2 separate regions of the Homo sapiens genome follow, and region 2 is reported to be linked to region 1. Evidence: microRNA targets listed by miRTarBase, many of them from high-throughput screens and not tested one by one. Region 1 holds a microRNA gene; the other region holds the end of a gene's coding sequence.

Region 1 (3,146 bases):
GCCAGATGCCAGCCCCAGCTCCACCCTGGGCTGGCTGGGTGCCCTGGAGCAGGTTCCCTCAGCCCTCTGGGCCTCAGTTTCCTCATCTGTAAAGTGAACCTAATAACAGTACTGAGATCAAAGGGCTGAGAGGACTCTACTGCCCGTAAATACCTGTGCACTTAGTAACTCTTAGCTGTGGTTCTTGTTTTCGCTGTTACCATCGTCTCCATTTTACAACTAGGAACATGAAGCTGGGTGAAGAGGGAGCTGCATCTGGTTCCAGGTCTCATGGAAAGGATGCTGTGGAACTGGAGTCCAGTCGGGCCTGGGATGAGGGTGCAGCCAGTGAGACTCTCACCTTGGGCACGAAATGTAAGGGATGCCAAAAAACTCAGTCATGGAGATAAACGGTATGTTAACACAACATTTTTAAAAGTCAGAATTAATGGCAAGACACCCGTGATGAACAAACTATGAACATGTTACAGAAAGATAAGATCAGGAACAGCGGTAATTTTGATTTTCACAAATTTCATGTTAAAATACTATTCATCTCCATGGCTGAGCTTTTTGGTGTCCCTTACATTGTTCCCCCGGAGTCCAGGGCCTGATCCGCCTCAGCCTCCTGGGGATCCTGAGCTGATCACAGCAGCTTCAGGCCCTGGGTGTATATACTCAGGGTATGTAGAGGGTGCTTCCTCCTAAATAAAGACAACAGACGGGGCGGGGCATGCTAAAGTAGTTTCTCATTTAAGTGAGGGTGGGGGAACAAACCAATGTCCCAAATCACAGAAGATTCTTTTTTTCCAAAGAGTTCTGGAACCCAGAAGGGTTTTGTTTTTAGGAAAAAGGCATGAGCTTTGGGAAAAGCAATGGGCCCGTTAAAGCCCATGGATTCTGCCTGCTTTACCATGACAAGAGATGTGGAGGGAGAGGAATTGAAAAAGGCTTTGGGTTGGGGGCGGGGGTACCTTTGCACCTTGCAGGCTCATCTGTCCTGCTGGAGTATTAGATGTGACTTGATTGTCTCTGTGTCTGCAGCTTCTCTTCAAGCCAAGTGCCCTGCCCTGAAGCAGTTCAGGATTTGAGTGCCTGAGTCACGTGGACCCAGGTTCAAACCCCAGGTGTGCCTCCCCGTAGCTTTCTGACTGCTACTCTTGGGCAAGTAGGACTAGTAAGGTGCCTACCCTCATGGAGGTGACGTTCGTGAGATGAGGGGATGGCATTGCTCAGCCTTGGTTTCTTTATCTGTGCAATCAGGGAATAATGGGACTCTGCAAGGGAAAAGGAGACAATGTGTGTGAAGTGCCTGGCACCAGGGTCAGGGCAAGGGTGAAGCCAGTGAGCACCTGGGGGATAAAATGCAGGGAGGCGCTCACTCTCTGCTGCCGATTCTGCACCAGAGATGGTTGCCTTCCTATATTTTGTGTCCTGCTATGCTCACCCTGGTGCTGCCTGGCACATAGTAAGCCTCCAATTAAAATTACCTGCGATTATCATGCACTTAACAATGTTTGGTGCAATAATAAGACTATGAGAGCGAGCTCTAAGATTTTTAGGATTACCATCCGTTTGTGCAAACATAATTAAGTACTCCGAAAGCAAAACATCAATCACCAAGCAGCCCTAAAACATCCAAGGTGATTTTGATCAAGGCACCCCTGCCCCTGGACCCACAAAGTCCCATACCAGGAATCAGGGCTTGGGCAGTTCAGTGAGGACTGGATTTCAGTTCCCTGTGTCCCCTTGTACAGGAGGCAACCTGTAGCACTGTACCTGGCACTCCTGATAATAGCTGCCGTGTTCCTAGCACTGTGCGGGCACACACATGGAGCTGCAGGACTGTGGGGCAGGCAAAGCGGGGTTGTTCTTTCCTCCTGCAAGGTCTTTACTGATGTTGGGGGCAGAGGGCTGGTTCTGCTGGGTGTGCCAGCCTGGCCATGTTGGCGTCACCCTCAGCTGAGCAGTGAGGAGGGCCCCTGGGTTACCTACATTCCATTGCATTGATCGAAGGTGTTGCTTGTTTACTTGGTGACTAATTCTGTCACCATTCCACCCTTCAAAACCACCCCCCCTCCCATTCAACAGTCGTCTAGCTGCCTGCTGGTGATGAAGTTTCAGAAGTGCTTTCTCCAGGCCAGCTTGCATGGGGTTTGGCGTTTGGCCTGTTTCCAGGAGGAGGGCCTATTATTAATCTGTAACTACAAGGAGGCGACATGGACCATCAATCACTGTGTAAAAGAGGAGGGATTTGAGGGCAGCTTCCAGGAGGCCAATTCACTCATGGATCAGAACACAGAACTAACTCAATTATAACAATAATAAGATAAATGAATAATATTAGCAATAACTAACGTTTACTCACCTGAGTACTGCCAAGCCCTGGCGCTAAATCCTTACAGTGATTATCAGTGACCCTTCAATTGTTCAATCCTCACTTTATTTGATTTATTTATTTACTTATTGAGAGAGTTTCATTCTGTCGCTCAGGCTGGAGTGCAGCGGTGTGATCTCGGCTCACTGCAACCTCCGCTTCCTGGGTTCAAGCGATTCTCCTGCCTCAGCCTCCCAAGTAGCTGGGATTACAGGCATTGTGCCTCCACATCTGGCTAATTTTTGTATTTTTAGTAGAGACAGGGTTGCGCCATGTTGGCCAGGATGGTCTCAAACACCTGACCTCAAGTGATCCACCCACCTCAGCCTCCCAAACTGCTGGGATTACAGGCATGAGCCACAGCGCCCGGCCTAATCCTCACTTTAGATTGTACCATATATATTCCTTGCCTAGTTATAATTTTCTCATTGCAAGAATGAATATGCAGGAAATATTTTCTATTCCATGTTCTATTATATTACATATAAATATTTCATAAAACTATAACATCACTTATACAGCAGAAGAGACAGTAGAAAGTATGAAAATAGAAAAGTTAAAAGTCTAAACTCTGGACTTGAGTTTGCGAGGGTTAAGTCCTCATTCTCCCACTTACTAGAAGATGATCTGTATTAGTCAGCTTGGGCTGTGGTAACCAAAACACCACAGACTAGGTGGCTTAAACAACAGTCATTTTTGTTTTCTCATAGTTCTGGAGGCTGGAAGTCCAAGATCAAGGTTCTGGCCGATGCATTTCTGGTGAGACCACTCTTTCTGGCTAGCCAACAGC
Region 2 (3,000 bases), not on the chromosome of region 1:
CTTCTCCCACAAGAGCATGCGGGACCGGCACGTGAACATGCACCTCAATCTGCGGCCGTTTGACTGCCCCGTGTGCAACAAAAAGTTCAAGATGAAGCACCATCTGACTGAGCACATGAAGACGCACACAGGTCTCAAGCCCTACGAGTGCGGAGTCTGCGCCAAGAAGTTCATGTGGCGAGACAGCTTCATGCGCCACCGAGGACACTGTGAGCGCCGGCACCGCCTGGGCGGGGTCGGGGCCGTACCTGGGCCTGGGACTCCCACGGGGCCATCCTTGCCGTCCAAGAGAGAGTCTCCCGGAGTGGGCGGGGGCAGCGGCGACGAAGCGAGTGCGGCCACGCCCCCGTCCAGCAGACGTGTCTGGTCCCCACCCAGAGTCCACAAGGTGGAGATGGGCTTCGGTGGAGGTGGAGGAGCAAACTGAAGGGGCAGGCTACTGGGGTGGGGTAGCTTTCGGGAAAGGGAATAAGGAGCACGATGCAAGGGCGCTGTGGCCCCCGGGTGATCTCCCACCACACTTACTGTCTTCCTTTATCTCTGTGGACTTGTATATATTCTGGAAGGGGAACCACAGTTTCACCATCGCCCGCCCATTCTACTACTCAACCCCTCCCCCCCAAGGTATTTCCAGAACTAAACCCTTCCTTTCCCTCTGATGGGTACACTGAAGCCCCTGCTCCACAGAGTAGATTGCACATGGAGGGAGGGAGAGGGGGCGTGTTGAACATCCTGCAGTCACAGGGTCAGGGGTCAGGTGGTTGTAGTCTGTGCCTGAAGTCTGTGTTTGTGTTGTCGTGGAGACAAGGCCTTTGAGCCCCACCCTTGTCCTAGAACCTACCCCCTCTCAAGGATGCGCTCTTTATTTCTACCCTGTCTCTCCCCGCCACCCCCGACTTCCCGTGGAAATTCCCAACTCGGTTCTCATGGAGGAGTGGGTGGAGACAAGGAGGGAGTAAGTCGTAGGAGTACAAGGTTTTTATTTTTTTTAACAGTGATTAAAATATTTATTGGTCATTTACTTGGCTTCCCGATAACCCGTGTGTTTGCTGGGGACGCGGCACAGATAGGGGGAAGCCGGAGTAATGGTTTTCGGGCAAGTGGATGTTGGAGAGCACACACAGGAGTTGGGGGGCGGGGGAGGGCCTGGGGTTGGGGAGGGCTCGAACTCGGGGCTGCTGGGTAGTCCAGGAGGGCGCGGTAAGGCTGGGGTGTCCTGGTGAGAACTGGAGAGGATCTACCCGGGTCCCTGCCTGGCCAGTGGGGAAACACCGGTCCCCCAGGCACCTTCACCTAACCAGAGCGGGGATTTCCACCGCCCCTCATGCCGCCCTTTGGAGGAAAGTGAAAGTGAAAGGAGGAAGAGGAGGCTTCATGGCTGAGGAGGTCGCAGCGCCATGAAGTCCCTGTCTCTGCTCCTCGCTGTGGCTTTGGGTGAGCGAACCCCGCGACTCATCGCCCAAGAACTAGAGGGAAGCGGAGGGAGGTGGCCCCACTGGAGCCGATGCCAGGGTGGGAGTGGGGCAGGTCACCAGACATACAAACCGCTCCTCACTCGCGTCCCTATACGCCAGGCCTGGCGACCGCCGTCTCAGCAGGACCCGCGGTGATCGAGTGTTGGTTCGTGGAGGATGCGAGCGGAAAGGGCCTGGCCAAGAGACCCGGTGCACTGCTGTTGCGCCAGGGACCGGGGGAACCGCCGCCCCGGCCGGACCTCGACCCTGAGCTCTATCTCAGTGTACACGGTGAGTCTCTAGGGACTCGCCGCCCCCCTACCTCTGTCGCCTCCACCGAAACCCCCTCCTCTTTAGATCCGGCAGTGACCTCAGGCCTCAGCTTCCCCTTTGTAAAGTGAGTCTCACTACGGGGTAGTCTGTGCATTTGAAGTTCCCCGAACGCTGCCCTTCCAGCCCCTTTCCCGGCGGTGACTCTACAGCTGCAACTTCCTTCTCTACACTCAGACCCCGCGGGCGCCCTCCAGGCTGCCTTCAGGCGGTATCCCCGGGGCGCCCCCGCACCACACTGCGAGATGAGCCGCTTCGTGCCTCTCCCCGCCTCTGCGAAATGGGCCAGCGGCCTGACCCCCGCGCAGAACTGCCCGCGGGCCCTGGATGGGGCTTGGCTGATGGTCAGCATATCCAGCCCAGTCCTCAGCCTCTCCAGCCTCTTGCGACCACAGCCAGAGCCTCAGCAGGAGCCTGTTCTCATCACCATGGCAACAGGTAGCTGGGGAGGGGAGGTGGAGAAGGGTGGGTAGATTCTAAGGGTCCAGATCAGCCGGTGGTCTCGCTTTATGGACTTGAGCAAGACATTTCGCCAATCGGGGTTCAGTTTCCTTTTTTTGTTAAGAGAGGTGGTTTGGCTAGAATGAATCAATCTCTACCGCTCCTTCTAGCCCTCACCCAGTTAAAAAAAAAAAACAAAAAAAAAACTGCAGCTTGGCAGGGGGTAGGGGGAAAGCAGGGCCGGGCAGGGGGGTTACTTTCTGGTGTTTCGAAGGGCGGGGCTTTGAAGAGGTGGGGTTTCCCGACACCAGACCTTGAGAGACTTGTCAGGTGATGCGAGGTGGGAGGGGTTCAGAAGCAGGAGCGTTTTTTCTCTGCTCTTCCCAGATCTGTGTCTTGCTCTGCACCCTCAGCTTTGCGGGTCACTCTTTCAAAACCCAGCACTCTATCCCCACCTGCGCCCACACCCGGCGCTGCGGCAATCCGCAAAGCAAAGGCTCTTGCACTCTAGCGCGTTGACCTTGCCTGACAGCCCCGTGTAGGGATGTGCTGCCGCTCTGTGGTCCGCAAACAGGTGGGCTCGAGTGGGCGGATGGACGCGGCTGGAGATTGGATAGCTCCTATTGCACTGAAAGGTGCATTGCAGTTTGAGGCCCAGGAGTCAGAAGCTTTTCTAGGCTGGGACGTGGGAGGGACTGTGCAGATAATTCAAGAATGAGGAGAGTCTGACCTGGATATCTGGGAGCTCTCCCTCCTGGCAGCGGAGGCGGGGTAT

What was found. Region 1 holds the annotated microRNA hsa-miR-4756-3p (CCAGAGAUGGUUGCCUUCCUAU, at 1,382-1,403, shown strand). A microRNA usually pairs through its seed, bases 2 to 8, with sites in the 3' UTR of a target mRNA and lowers its output. Matches are read on the target gene's strand: a 7mer-m8 pairs with bases 2 to 8, a 7mer-A1 pairs with bases 2 to 7 and ends in A, and an 8mer does both.
Region 2: the mRNA of ZBTB22 is a reported target of hsa-miR-4756-3p. Seed matches in the 3' UTR shown: 7mer-m8 at 537-543.

The regions. Positions count from the first base shown.
Region 1 is chr20:54,066,675-54,069,820 of GRCh38, reverse strand. It overlaps MIR4756 (microRNA 4756), which reads left to right and starts at 1,336; the gene lies at 1,336-1,413. The region is part of intron 1 of BCAS1 (brain enriched myelin associated protein 1); the gene reads left to right. RefSeq lists an enhancer at 1-508.
Region 2 is chr6:33,312,439-33,315,438 of GRCh38, reverse strand. It overlaps ZBTB22 (zinc finger and BTB domain containing 22), which reads left to right. Exons shown (of 2, transcript NM_005453.5): 2 at 1-1,021. The coding sequence ends at 427. TAPBP (TAP binding protein) reads left to right here and starts at 1,361. Exons shown (of 8, transcript NM_003190.5): 1 at 1,361-1,434; 2 at 1,575-1,745; 3 at 1,962-2,222. The coding sequence starts at 1,398. RefSeq lists a silencer at 1-67 and enhancers at 1-147, 148-807.